Linked DNA regions of Homo sapiens: region 2 is linked to region 1. Evidence: fine-mapped expression QTL. Tissue or cell type: whole blood. Region 1 holds a variant in brackets; the other region holds the start of a gene. All regions are shown on one strand. Distances are between the middles of the regions.

Evidence for each region. PIP is the estimated chance that this variant, and not a neighbour inherited with it, causes the effect.
Region 2: it holds the start of ARF4, and the variant in region 1 is fine-mapped to the expression of ARF4 in whole blood (INTERVAL, PIP 0.96).

The regions. Positions count from the first base shown.
Region 1 is chr3:57,734,340-57,742,694 of GRCh38, forward strand. No RefSeq gene overlaps it. Among named protein-coding and RNA genes, the nearest start is that of SLMAP, 18 kb to the right of the region's middle. The variant G/C (reference allele first, on the strand shown) is at 4,275.
Region 2 is chr3:57,594,513-57,600,972 of GRCh38, forward strand. ARF4 (ARF GTPase 4) reads right to left here and starts at 2,832. Exons shown (of 6, transcript NM_001660.4): 1 at 2,562-2,832. The coding sequence starts at 2,628. ARF4-AS1 (ARF4 antisense RNA 1) reads left to right here and starts at 3,277. Exons shown (of 2, transcript NR_132370.1): 1 at 3,277-3,539; 2 at 6,231-6,404. It also overlaps a transcript of PDE12 not described here. RefSeq lists enhancers at 2,236-2,285, 2,306-2,455, 2,369-3,568, 2,444-3,149, 2,486-2,535 and 4 more.

The DNA of each region.
Region 1 (8,355 bases):
CCAGCTAATTTTTGTATTTTTAGTAGAGACGGGGTTTCACCACGTTGGCCAGGCTGGTCTCAAACTCCTGACCTCAGGTGATCCGCCCACCTCGGCCTCCCAAAGGCAGTTTTATATAGACATTTATTCTGTAGAATCTATAGTATAGTGTTTTAATTATCTATTGCTGCATAACACATTAACCCCAAACTTAGTGGCTTAACTTAAATATAAACATTTATTATCTGTCACAGTTTCTACAGGTCAGGAATTTGGGAGCCACTTGACTGGGCAGTTCTAGTTAGGGGTTTTTCGTGGGGTTCAGTCAGACGTTAACCAAGTCTGCAGTCATTTGAAGACTTGAATGGGGCTGGAAGATCCACTTCCAATGGCTTACTCACACAGCTGGTAAGTCTGTGCACAATACTGGTGGAAGCCGCAGTTCGTCCCCTAGTGGGCCCCTCTACAAAGTTGTTGGAGAGTCCTCATGAGATGATTGCTGGCCTCCCCCAGAGTAAGCTATCCAAGAGACTAAAGTGGGAGTAGCAAGTCCTTTACAGTCTACCCTTGGAAGTCACCCCCTGTAACCTCAGCCATGCTCTTGTTCACATAGACTAGCCCTAATTCATTGTGGAAGAAGACAACATAAGGACATTAATACTAGAAAGTGAGAATCATTGAGAGTCATCTTAGAGACTGGCTCTCATATACAGTGACTCAATTATACATCATATCTCACTAGCCAGTGACTACAAAATAAGATTAGACCTATTTTTTTTTTTTTTTTTTTTTGAGACAGAGTCTCACTCTGTCACCCAGGCTGGAGTACAGTGGCACGAACATGGCTCACTGCAGGCTCAGCTTTCTGGGCACAAGTGATCCTCCCACCTCATCCTCCTGAGTAGCTGGGACTACAGGCATGCACCACCAGGCCTGGCTAATTTTTTTATTTTTCATAGACATGAGGTGGTCTCAAACTCCTGGGCTCAAGTGATCCACCTGCCTCTGCCTCCCAAAGTGCTGGGGTAACAGGTGTGAGCCACTGCTCCCAGCCTTAATTTTTTAAAAATTTTAGTTGACAAATAATAATTATAAATATTTGTGAGGTACGATGTGATGTATGCATTATCAAATGATTAAATCAAGCTAATTAACACATCTATCACCTCACATTTTCATCATTTTTTGTGGTGTGAACATTTAAAATTTACTCTCAGCAATTTTGAAATATACATTACATTACTATTAATTATAGTCACCATGTTGTGCAATAGATCCTAAAAACTTATTCCTCCTGTCTAGCCAAAACGTTCTACCCTTTGACCAACATCTCCCTTTTCCCTCTCCCTGCAACCAACCCTCAGTTAACCACCATGCTATTGTCTGTCTCCTACTGTGAGTTAACCACCATCCTACTGTCTGTCTGCTACTGTGAGTTAACCACCATTCTACTGTCTACTGCTATGTGATTCCACATAAAAGTCAGATCGTGCAGTACTTGCCTTTCTGTGCCTGGCTTATTTCACTTAAAATAATGTCCTCTAGGTTCATCCATGTTGTGGCAAATGGCAGTATTTCTTTTTAAAGGCCATTGTGTATACATAGCACATTTTCTTTATCCATTCATCCATTGATGGACAAGATTGATTCTCTATCTTTGTTATTGTGAATAATGCTGAATAATTCAGTACAATTATTGTGAATAATGTGAGTAATGAGGATGGGAGTGCAGATATCTCTTTCACAAACTGGTTTCAATTCCTTTGGATATATCTCCAGAAGTAGGATTGCTTGATCATATGGTAGTTATATTTTTAGTTCTTCAAGGAAACTTCTTACTCTTTTCCATAATGGCTACACTAATTTGCATTCCCACTAACAGTATACAAGGGTACCCTTTTCTCCACATCATCTCTAACACTTGTAACCTTTCATCTTTTTGTTGACAGCCATTCTAACAGGTGGGAGACGATATCTCCTTGTGGTTTTAATTGGCATTCTTCTGATGATTAGTGATGCTGAACATTTTTTCATGTACCTATTGACCATTTGTATGTCTTCTTCTGAGAAATATCTATTTAGGTCCTTTGACATTTTTTAATTAGGTTGTTTTCTTGCTATTAAGTTGTTTGAGTTCCTTATATATTTTGGATATTAAAATCCTACTTTTTTTTTTTTTTTTTTTTGAGACGGAGTTTCGCCCTTGTTGCCCAGGCTGGAGTGCAATGGCGTGATCTCGGCTCACTGCAACCTCCGCCTCCCGGGTTCAAGCAATTCTCCTGTCTCAGCCTCCTGAGTAGCTGGGATTACAGGCATGTGCCATCACGCCTGGCTAATTTTGTATTTTTAGTAGAGACGAGGTTTCTCCATGTTAGTCTGGCTGGTCTCGAACTCCCGACCTTAGGTGATCCAGCCACCTTGGCCTCCCAAAGTGCTGGGATTACAGGTGTGAGCCACCACTCCCAGTCTAAACTCATACTTTTAATGTTCAAATTATGATGACTTAAGCCCTCATGGCACATTTCCTAGAGAAAACAATCTCTTCCTCCTCCCGTATTTCTGATACACCTCTCCTGTTTTCAGGAACAGTTCTTGTTCTATCACAACCTTCTGGATCTGCCGGAGTGCTGCTCTCTCATCCTAATCAGAATGTAGCTCCAGTGAGCACCGTTCTCCTGCACTGATGACTGTCACCATTGCTTCCACCACTGAATTTGGGAAGTATTTGATATTCTTCCAAGAAAGTGAAATAAGCCCAAGAACACAACCGAGGCCAAGCTGTGATTGTTAACAGGTTTTGACTTTTGTTTACAGAAAGTGTAATAGACAGGGTAACCTATACTGCTGTTAGCAGTGGCTGCTATGAAAGGTCCACAGTCTAAACTCACTATCAGAATGGCAGAAACGCAGGACTTCTGGAAACTCTACCATCATCAGAGGCTGTCCTCTTGTCCTATGCCCTACAAAAGACATAATACAACACAGTCTGTCATCAGTCCAATTCCTGAGGTCTGGGATTTTCAGTCTTTAACACCACAGGTGGAACTCAACAATCCATGTCATAAAGTGCTGGGCCAAGTGCCCTCCATTTCTTGTTTACAGTTTCTCCTCCAGCATTGGCTGAAGAAAACAAGCCTGCACACTCTCTCAGCATTCCTCTCCATCCCACTTCCATGACCCTCATAAATAAGTGTCTAAAGAACAGGCCTCTCAGCTCTGTAAAGATATCCAGTAATGAGCCAGGCACAGTGGCTCATGCCTGTAATCCCAGCACTTTGGGAGGCCGAGGCAGGAGGATCACCTGAGGTCAGGAGTTCAAGACCACCCTGGCCAACATGGTGAAACTCCATCTCTAATAAAAACAAAAATTATCCGGATGTGGTGGTGTGTGCATGTAATCCCAGCTACTTGGGAGCCTGAGGCAGGAGAATTGCTTGAACCCAGGAGGTTGCAGTGAGCCGAGATTGCATCACTGCACTCCAGCCTGGGTGACAGAGTGAGACTCTGTTTCAAAAAAAAAAAAAAAAGATATCCAGTAGTGCACAAGCATAGGACAATCTAGATCCATACTTACGGAGAAACATTTCTTTATAGAAATCAATATATAGAGGCAGACAACTACTAAAAGATACCTTATTAGCAGCCTGAAGCATCTTCATTTGTTTGTTTTGAGATGGAGTCTTGCTCTGTCGTCCAGGCTGGAATGCAGTGGCGCAATCTTGGCTCATTGCAACCTCCACCTCCCAGGTTCAAGTGATCCTCTTGCCTCAGTCTCCCAGAGATCTGGGACTACAGGCATGCACAACTATGCCCGGCCAATTTTGCGGAGGCCGGGGGGCGGGTATTTTTATTAGAGATGGGGTTTTGCCATGTTGGCCAGGCAGGTCTCAAGCTCCTGGCCTCAGCTGATCCACCTGCCTCAGCCTTCCAAAGTGCTGGGATTACAGGCCTGAGCCACCATGTCCGGCCTTCATTTGTTTTACCTCAGTTATTTCAGGCCTTCACCTACAACTGGACGTTGGTGATGGCTTTGCAATGACAAAACCCAAGAGGCAGCTTCAGGGTATCTCCCAGGACAAGGGAGGAATCGGTACTAAAAGGAAATTATAGCCTTTGCTTTTAAATGTAGTGTTTCCAGCTGGTTCACTCATCAAGGTTAAAAAATAAAATCCTGGCTTCAGCCAGCTTGTTTATAATATCACTTGCCGTGATTGCTTGTTGGAAAGCATGTCTCAGTTTCATTAGAGAGCCTGGAGGTCAGATAGCAAAAATAGAAGCTGGAAGAGATATTAAAG[G/C]AATAAGTTGTGCCTAGGGATAGAAAATAACATCAAGCAGATTGTTTGTCACGCGGTAACAGTGGGCTGTAGTGAAATGATGAGAGGTTTTGGAGCCAAACAGATGTAGGTCCACACGATGATGGGACTCTTCCTGCAAAGTGGGATGACTGGGACTTCACTTCTCTGAGCCTTAGTTTCTTCACATGTAAAATGATGGTAACAATTTTACTTCACAGAGTTGAGGATTAAATGAGAAAATACATAATCAAGCACTGGCAGAAGGCAGGCTATGCTTCAGGTATAGCACTTGGTGCTGGGAATAAAGGAGTGAAGGGATGAAAATGAGTCACTGTCTTCACTGAGATTTCAATCTAGAAGGGAAGGCAGGAATTAAAGAACTACCTAACTTCAATTGTGATGAATGCTATCACGAAGCCTAGGGTACCATAAAAAGAGACCTGACCTCATTTAGGGTGTCAAGGAATGTGGCTTTGAGGAAGTGATGCAAAAGCTGGGGAGTCTGGGTTAGGGGAGAGCATGTCATCTTTCAGTTGAGGCATTCTAGGCTCATGGAAGGTGCTCAATAAATGGGAGCTGCTATTATTACTATTTATTCAGTAAACATTTATTGAGTGCCTACTAAGTATACTGTGCTACCATGCATACTGAGGGTATAATAAATGTGTGAAGTTGAAAAGTAGCTTAACTTCTTTGAGCCTCAATATGTTCAGCTGGAAAATGGGAATATTAATATTACCTACCCCTTTAGTCTTTCTTTGAAGATTCAATGAGATTATGAATGCAAAATGTTTAACATAGTGCCTGGCATAGGGAGAACATAATATATATTAGTAATATTTTTATTCACTAATCAAGACTGGCTACATAATTTACAGGGCCCAGAGCAAAATAAAAATGCAGGGCTTCTTGTTAAAAGATTATTAAGAATTTCAAGCCAGGCATGGTGGCTCATGCCTGTAATCCCAGCACCTTGGGAGGCTGAGGCAGACGAATCACAGGGTCAGGAGTTTGAGACCCTGGCCAACATGGCAAAACCCCGTGTTTACTAAAAATACAAAAATTAGCCAGGCGTGGTGGTGGGCCCCCATAGTCCCAGCTACTCAGGAGGCTGAGAAAGGAGAATCGCTTGAACCTGGGAGGTGGAGGTTGCAGTGAGCCGAGATCGGGCCACTGCACTATATCCTGGGCGACAGAGTGAGACTCTGTCTCCAAAAAAAAAAAAAAACTTTGGCTGGGCACGGTGGCTCACACCCGTAATCCCAGCACTTTGGGAGGCTGAGGCGGGTGGATCACCTGAGGTTGGGAGTTCAAGACCAGCCTGACCAACGTGGAGAAACCCCATCTCTACTAAAAATACAAAATCAGTCGGGCGTGGTGGCGCATGCCTGTAATCCCAGCTGCTCAGGAGGCTGAGGCAGGAGAATCGCTTGAATCCGGGAGGTGGAGGTTGCAGTGAGCCGAGATCGTGCCATTGCACTCTAGCCTGGGCAACAGGAGCAAAACTCCATCTCAAAAAAAAAAAAAAAAAAATCAAAACAGTAAAGTATTAAACCAAGGGAGGGCCCTGTGTAACTGCACAGTTCGCATGCTTACAAAGACAGCCCTTTCACTAGTTATGTTATATGTACATATGTGCTTTTGCATAGCTTACCTATGTAAACAGGCTGAATCTTTCTTGGGAGCAACTTTCAAAATTCAGTATGTGGAATTTAGTGTATAAGGATAAAATATGTATACATGCAGTATATCAATAGATGATTGAGACATATTTTTCTCAACATGTTGTTATGAAAATTTTAAAACAAAAATTATAAGAATTTCTTAGCGAGCACATGTATACAAACCACCTAGATTCTATTATTAACATTTTATTATATTTGCTTTATTTTATATGTATATACATATGTATTTTTCAAGAGATGGGGTCTCGCTCTGTTGCCCAGGCTGGTCTTGAACTCCTGGGCTCAAGCAGTCCACCTGCCTCAGCCTCCCAAAGCGCTGGGGTTATAGGCATGAGCCTCCACACCTGCCTCCCTTATTATATATCTATCCATTTATTAATCAATCTGTCTTATTTTTGGTGCATTTCAAAGTAAATTCCAGATATCAATATCACTAACTAAAGCCAAATTTGTTTGATTCTTTCTCCTTTTGATGTAAATTGATATACAGAAGAATGCACAAATCTTAACAGTAACTATTTGCTGGCTGGGCAAGGTGTCTCACGCCTGTTATCCCAGCATTCTGGGAGGCCAAGGTGGGTGGATCACTTGAGGCCAGGAACCTGAGACCAGCCTGGCTAACATAGTGAAACTAGTGAAACCCTGTCTCTACTGAAAATATAAAAATTAGCCGGTCATGGTGGCACATGCCTGTACTCCCTGCTACTCAGGAGGCGGGAGAATTGTTTGAACCCAGGAGGCGAAGTTTGCAGTGAGCTGAGATCACGCCACTGCACTCCAGCCTGGGCAACAGAGTGAGTACCCTGTCTCAAAAACAAAACAAAACGAAACAAAACAAAACAAAAAAATACAAGAGTAAATTTGGTAAATTTGCTGAGTTTTGACAAATGCATTGTCCTCTATAACCCAAACCTCTATAAAGATACAGAACATTACCATCATCCTAAAAAGTTCCTTCATACTCCTTCCCTGTTAGTCACCACTCCTACCCTTTCCAGAGACAACTACTGTTCTGATTTTTTTTTTTTCTGGTGCTTAAATTTTTCAAAAGGAGCCTTGATAAGTATAAGTACTTAGCTTCAGTGCTTTCTCCTATTATGCACAGAAAATCTTGCAGTCTTTAAAACAGGAGAGGTAATTCTAGGATAGTTGGTGCAATCAACAACAAATATTTGTTGAGACAAAGAGTAACTAAATAAATCACTTGAATGCTTTTTTCAATAGTTTTTGGGTAAAAGTGATACAATGAACACTCCAGAAAAAGTGTAAATAATTGAAAAAATATAGAGAGAGGAAATTAAAAATCACCTCACATGAAGAGATGAACACTTAAAATATTTTGGGCTGGGCATGGTGGCTGATGCCTGTAATCCCAACACTTTGGGAGGCTGAAGTGGGAGGAGGATAGCTTGAGGCCAGGAGTTTGAAATCAGCCTGGGTAACATAGACCCTATTTCTACAAAAGAAAAATTTAAAAATTAGCCAGACTTAGTGGCATGCTCCTATAGTCCCAGCTACTGGGGAGGCTGAGGCAGGAGGCTCACTTGAGCCCAGGAGTTCGAGGCTGCTGGTAGCCGTGATTGCTCTATTGTGCTCCAGCCTGGGCAACAGAGTGAGACCCTGTCTCAAAAATACATATATAAATAAAATAGTGGGTGCGGTGGCTCACGCCTGTCATCCCAACACTTTTGGAGGCCTAGTCGGGTGGATCACTTGAGGTCAGGAGTTCAAGATCAGCCAGGCCAACATGGTGAAACCCTGTCTCTACTAAAAATACAAAAATAAAATAAATAAATGAATAAAAATATTTTGATGAAATTTCTCCCTGATGCCTATGTGTACATATATATAGTGATCTCTGTATAAAACCTGATATAAATGGGATCATACACATGCTACTATGTAACCTGTTTTTGTCACTTAACAATATCCCATAGATATTTTTCCTCATCATAAATATAAGGTAGAAATATAAATCATCATTTCTAATGGGCACACTCGATGGACATATAATTCTTTAATTAACAAGTTACCAGCTGGGCATGGTGGCTCATGCCTGTAATCCCAGCATTTTGGGAGGCCAAGGTGGGCGGATCACCTGAGGTCAGGAGTTCAAGAACAGCCTGGCCAACATGGTGAAACCCTGTCTCTACTAAAAATAAAAAATTAGCTACGCATGGTGGCACGTGCCTGTAACCCCAGGTACTCAGGAAGCTGAGACAGGAGAATCTCTTGAACCTGGGAGGTGGAGGTTGCAGTGAGTAGAAATCGCGCAACTGCACTCCAGCCAGGGCTATAAGAGTGAAACTTCGTCTTAAAAAAAAAAAAATTAACCAGTTACCTATCAATGATCATTTTGATTATTTCTAAAATTTCAGTATTATCAACAATACTGT
Region 2 (6,460 bases), 140 kb before region 1:
TTGGTTTTTTAATTACAGTTAACTACAAGCTAACTTCCAATATCTTTTAAAGTTACTTGAACTTTTGAAGAACAGCAGGTGTACGAATTAAATTTAAAACTTCTCCATAGTAGTTTGGCAAACCTGACACATCAGCTAACTGCTATCTCCTTTATACTTTAAAATGGTAAAGTCTGAATAAAACACTGACTCAGGAGGGCATGAATCTTATCTAAGCTTTATAAAGAAAAACGAAGCACACTAATGTAAAACATTAATAATTCCAACAGTTGAATGGGGCAGACACTTTAAAAGTGATCTATTATTTTTGCTGTCAGTCACTCATAAAGCCAGACAGAAAAATGTAAGAATTATCAAACTTCCAAACCACCTTTTTCCCTGTTCATGCACATATCTCCCTCGTACGTTGATACTTCCTTTGATGAGTTACCATAAATGTCGATCTTGTGACTGAAGTGTTTTTTAGTCAAGGAAAACTGATTATCCCAAAATTAAAGTGCAAAACGATAGCATGCCTGAGTAATAAAACATTAAAAACAAGTAACTCCTAAATCCTCCACACAAATGCAGAAACTTAAATATTTTTTCTCTCCCATTTTCTTCGAATCATTTTTTGGGGTGGAGGGAAATGCCTCCCAATATAGTAAATATATGAAAATGCTGGTAGCATACTTCTATATTCCTTGCCCCTCTGATACTTTCATCAATCACAAAAGACTAAGGAATTGAAAAATAGCAATTCATTTACAATAAATCTTAAGTAAAAAGACCAATATACTATGTGTTCTGGAACATAACCATATATTGTTAAATCTCTTTAACGAACAGACTGGAAATTCATTTATCACAGTCCGAAGTCCTCCCATTAACTTCCGATCCTTTTTCAGACTGCCAACTTTCAGCCACTGAAAACTTAAATATGCTTGCCCTCCTAAAATAATTCTGTCCTCTTGACAAAGGAAATCTAAGAAACTTTGAAAGAAAAAATACTTTATGAATGACTCATAAACAATTGATTCACAAAGTGTAAGTACGCTAAGAGGAAAATAAACATGAGCCAATGTATATACTGTTACTCTTTATATACCTTGAAATATTACAGAAGCTTGTGTTTGCAAGTTTTGATGGTAGTACAGCTCTAAAATAAAACCTCCGGCCGGGCGCGGTGGCTCACGCCTGTAATCCCAGCACTCTGGGAAGCCTGGGTGGGTGGATCACCTGAGGTGAGGAGTTCGAGACCAGACTGGCCAACGTGGTGAAACCCCCGTCTCTACTAATAATACAAAAAATTAGCCAGGCGTGGTGTTGCATGCCTGTAATCCCAGCTACTCGGGAGGCTGAGGCAGGAGAATCTCTTGAACCCGGGAGGTGGAGGTTGCAGTGAGCCGAGATTGCGCCACTGCACTCCAGCCTGGGTGACAAGAGCAAAACTCCGTCTGCAAAAAAAAAAAAGGAAGAGAAAAATAAAACCTCCTCCGGTAGAAAACAAGCTAATGAACCAACAAGTTTCAACGTTCAAAGTTAGAGGGGCTTCTTTCAGCGTTATTCTAGTCCATGGAGCTCAGCTGTGATGTAGACTGCTTACAGTAACCGGGAGCGGTTGCTTACTTCAGCCAACTGACAGCCCTTCTCCCTCAGCTGAGCAAAAACACGCCCCCTAAAAAGTAGTTTTTAAAAAGTCAACTTTCTAAAAAGAAATTTTAAAAAAATTGTAGTTACTATTTAACAAGACTACCATAAAATTCAGCGTCATGATGTTCAGTTACTTGAAAATTTATCAGGTATTTTTTAAAAATTCGTTTCTAAAATTTTTTTGCATTAGACCTTAGACCGCCTAAAAATAAGCTTAAAAACCTAGGAGAATAAACCAAACACATTTAAAGTTTTTGAAAATAGTCAAAGAAATAGAAGATAAGCTCAGTTTTCGGAGAATGAGATTAACAAGGAGCGAAAAACTTGAAACGGAATCCAGCGCAAGGCCAAGTTTAGCAAAGTGAGCGCTGAAGGACTCCAGACTCTTCGGAAACCTTGGGTGCTCCCTGGCCACCGCAACTTCCTGCCCCGGGCGGCTCCAGGCTCCGGGTGGCCGCTGGCTTACATACCAATGGAGTATGCAGGGACTGTACACGAAACGCAGAAGGGGAGGGAAAAGGCTGGAGTTGCTCTGCCTCCCTCCTGACCGCTGTCCACACCCGGGCAAGAAGGTATGCAGATCGCACCCCCAGAAAGGGCCTCGCCAAGTGTTTGCTTCCCAGAGTTGGCTTTCCCCACATCTCTGCCCAATGTTGTCCAGCTTTCAATAAGATCAAGGAGAAAAAGCCGAGTCCAGAAAGAAATCTTGCCCGAAGCCCTGTCCCTGTCTCGTCTGGCGACAGATCGGGGGCGGGGGGGATCGCTCACCCTCCGCTCCATTGTTCCCCCTTAAGAATTCCTTCCGACCCCCGACCCGGCGCCCCTCCCCCACCACAGCGGGCGGAGGAAAAAAACAGGCCCAGAGGCCACCCCAATTGTGGAGACCCTGCCTTTCCCAGGTCCCGCCTGACTCGCAGCCCCTCACTCACCCATCAAAATGCGCATCTGCTTCTTGCCAAATAGTCGGGAGAAGAGGGAGGAGATAGTGAGGCCCATGGCGGTAGTGGCACTTGTGATGGGCAGAAGCAGAAGGGGTTTGGGGCGACCCCGTGCTTTCTCCTTTCAAGCTCCCAGGCAAACTAAACGAGAGGGAAGAGAAAGAGCGGAGGAAGAAAGAGGGAGGCAGAAACGTCTCAGTGGCCCCTGTGCCGATGAAGATCCGGCACAGGAATAAGCCGGTAGAGGACCTGCTAGGCGACTGGCGCGGCAGCTCCGGCTCTAGCCTTTAGGCTCTGGCTGTGCCACGTCACGCGGCGGCCGCGGCGACTCCAGCAGCGGCCCGGCCCCTCCAACGCGGACAGAATCGCGTCACCGCCGCCCCATCCCCCTGCGCTTCCGGTGCGCCCGAGCCACTGCGCTTGCGCCTGCAGGGGATTGGCCAGTTTCGCTGACGAGCATCTCTCGACGGCGCCACCGCCCGGACGTGGCCCCAGGAGCCGGGAGAGGCCGGCTGAGGCACATGCGTACTGGGAGACGGACAAAGTCCCACAATACCTCGCTTCGTCACTGCCAAATCAGACTCAGGGTGAGACGCTTCCGCCCGGATGAAGGTATTGTCGGGGTGATAGTCCTTGCTTCCGGAAAGGCGAGCTGAGCATTATGGGTTAGGTGAGGAACCTCGCCCTCTTCTATTACGGTACGCGCGATGGGTATTCCCTGATGCCATGAACTTACACGTTTCACACACGGGACCAGACGCTTGCTTTAGTTGACGCATGAAGACCGGTCCGGTCTTTTGCGGAGAAAAGTGGTTAAAAGCTGACTTGTGGGCCGAGAAACTGTGGCACCCTAATGAGCTAGGGCTAGACGCTTCGACCACCACGCCAAGTGATTCTGAAGATCTCTAATTCTGTCAAGGCGAGAGCGCTCCAACACGTGTTCATCGGCTGTTGCTTTTTAAAGAGAAGGCAAGGAGGAAGTCTTGCTTTTCTTGTACTTTTTTTCCTAGAAGCAGCATTAAAGATTTACTCCTTATGTTGAGGAAGCGGAAAGCCTCTTCACTTTAAAAGTGTTTATGATCGGGCCTGGCGCGGTGACTCACCGCGCCCGGCCTGCTACACCTTTTAAAATTCACAGCAATGATAAATGTATTAGACTCATTGCCAGGATAAAGATTTAATCTATTTTTCTAGTAGTGCCGTCCTATGTGGTTCTGTAGTTGCTTATTCCAACTGGTATATTTCCATAGGATGGGGTTGAATAAGAAAAACTTGCAAACTTTCAGAAACAGTAAGTTATTTTTATATTTTTGAAGGCTTGCTGAGTAACGCTTCTCTTGGTAGCACTACCTTATCTACCCTTCAGAGACTGTTATTTCTTAGGAGTGGCCCTGGGCAATTAAAAGCAAAAACTTCTGGCCGGGCATAGTGGCTCATGCCTGTAATCCCAGCACTTTGGGAGGCCGAGGCGGGCAGATTACGAGGTCAGGAGATCGAGACCATCCTGGCTAACACGGTGAAACCCAGTCTCTACTAAAAATAGAATAAATTAACCGGGCGTGGTGGCGGGTGCCTATACTCCCAGCTACTCCGGAGGCTGAGGCAGAAGAATGGCGTGAACCCGGGAGGCGGAGGTTGCAGTGAGCGGAGATCGCGCCCCTGCACTCCAGCCTGGGCGACAGAGCGAGACTGTCTTAAAAAAACAAACAACAACAACAAAAAAACCCCAAAAACTTCTTTACTCAGAAGTACCCTCCTTTGCATTGGAGATACATGTAAAGAGTTGCTTAGCAGTTGAATAACTCAAAATTGCATTTTGGAAGCTTGCTAAGTGACAAGACCTTCTTGTATCCTTTTGTGAACCCCCAAAATATGAGACAGGCCTCAGTTAATTTAGAAAGTTAATTTTGCCAAAGTTGAGGACACGCGTCCATGACATAGCCTCAGGAGGTCTTGTAGACATGTGCCCAAGGTGATCAGAGCACGGTTTGGTTTTATACATTCTAGGGAGAAATGAGACATCAATCAATATATGTAAGATGAACATTGGTTCATTCTGGAAAGACTGGACAACTCAAAGCAAAGGCAGGAAGACTCTGAGTGGGGAGGGAGCTTCCAGGGCATAGATAGATAAGAGACAAATGGTTGCATTCCTTTGAGTTTCTGATTAGCCTCTCCAAAGGAGGCAGTCAGATATGCGTTTATCTCAGTGAGCAGAGGGGTGACTTTTTAAAGAATGGGAGGCAGGTTGGCCCTAAGCAGTTCCCAGCTTGACTTTTCTCTTTAGCTTAGTGAGGTGGAGGCCCCAAGATTTATTTTCCTTTCACACTTTAGGCCTTATGTCTGTTTTTAGTTTTATATAGTAGAATTCCTTAAAACAATCTTCAACTAATTCTTAGGGTCTTCTTAAATTCAAAAGACAAACCGTATGAGCCCTCCTCCCTGTAACTTATTCCAAATCTTAATCCATGTTTTCTGTTTAGTTATGCAAAATAAATCGAAAGAATTCTGTTCTCCATCTCTAGCCTCCAAAACCTGAACCAAAACAAAAGTTGTCAAAACAGATTTTTCAGTAAGAATACACTACACATCAAGTGGCTAATGTAAATTACAAAACAGGATGTTAATGGCAGACTGTAATATCTCTATTGTACAGATAAAAATAATCAGGGTCAGAGAGATTAAATATTCTGCCCAAGGTCACACAGCTAAAAGCAGTGGAACAGCTATAAGAACCCATTTCTTCTGGTATTAACTGGTATTTACACTCTTTTTTTTTTTTTTTTTTTAATAAATAAGTGGATTCTGGCTATGTTGCCCAGGCCTGTCTGGAACTCCTGGGCCCAAGCAATCCTTCCACCTCAGCCTCCAAAGTGTTGGGATTACAGGTGTGAGCCAGTGCACCCAGCCATTAACACTCTTAACCACTACACTATACTACCTTCTTACATTTATTTATTTATTTATTTGAGACAGGGTCTCACTTTGTCACCCAAGCTGAAGTACAGTGGCATCATCTCGGCTTACTCAACCTCCTGGGATCAAGTGATCCTCCCACCTCAGCCCCCAAAGTAGCTGGGACTACAGGTACACCACCACATTGGCTAAGTAGTGTTATTTTTTGTAGAGACAGGGTTTTGCTATGTTGCCAAGGCTGGTCTCAAACTCCTGAGCTCAACCAATCTGTCTGCCTTGGCCTCCCAAAGTACTGGGATTATGGGCCTGAGCCACTGTTCCCGGCCAAATTCTTTTCTTTTCTCTTTTCTTTTTCTTTCTTTCCTTTCTTTTCTTTCTTTCTCTTTCTTTTCTTTCCTTCATCCTTCCCTCCCCTTCCTTTCCTTTCCCTTTTCCCCTCCCTTCCCCCTTCTGTTCCCTTTTCCCTTCCCTTTTCCCTCCTCTCCCTTCCCCTCCCCTCCCTTTTTCCTCCTGCCTCAGCCTCCCAAGTAGCTGGGACCACAGACATATTCCACCATGCCCAGCTATTTTATGTATTTTTGGTAGAGTTGGCGTTTTGTAGAGACCAGCATGTTGCCCAAGCTGGTATCCAGCTGCTGAGCTCAGGCGATCTACTCGCCTTGGCCTCCCAAAGTGTTGGTAGTAGAGGTGTGAGCCACCGTGCCCAGACCCCAAATTTATTTTTATTTTATTTTATTTTTCTAGGTCAGGCATGGTGGCTCACACCTGTAATCCCAGCATGTTGGGAGGCCAAGATGGGAGACTCACTTGAGCCCAGAAGTTCCAGACCAGCCTTGGCAATATAGTGAGATGCCATTTCTATTTTAAAAAATATTTTAAAAATAAAATATTTTTCTATTCACCTTTCATCAATACAAACCCAGAAGAGAATCTTTCTTATTTTTAAAAATGAGGAAATTGAGCCCTACAAGAAA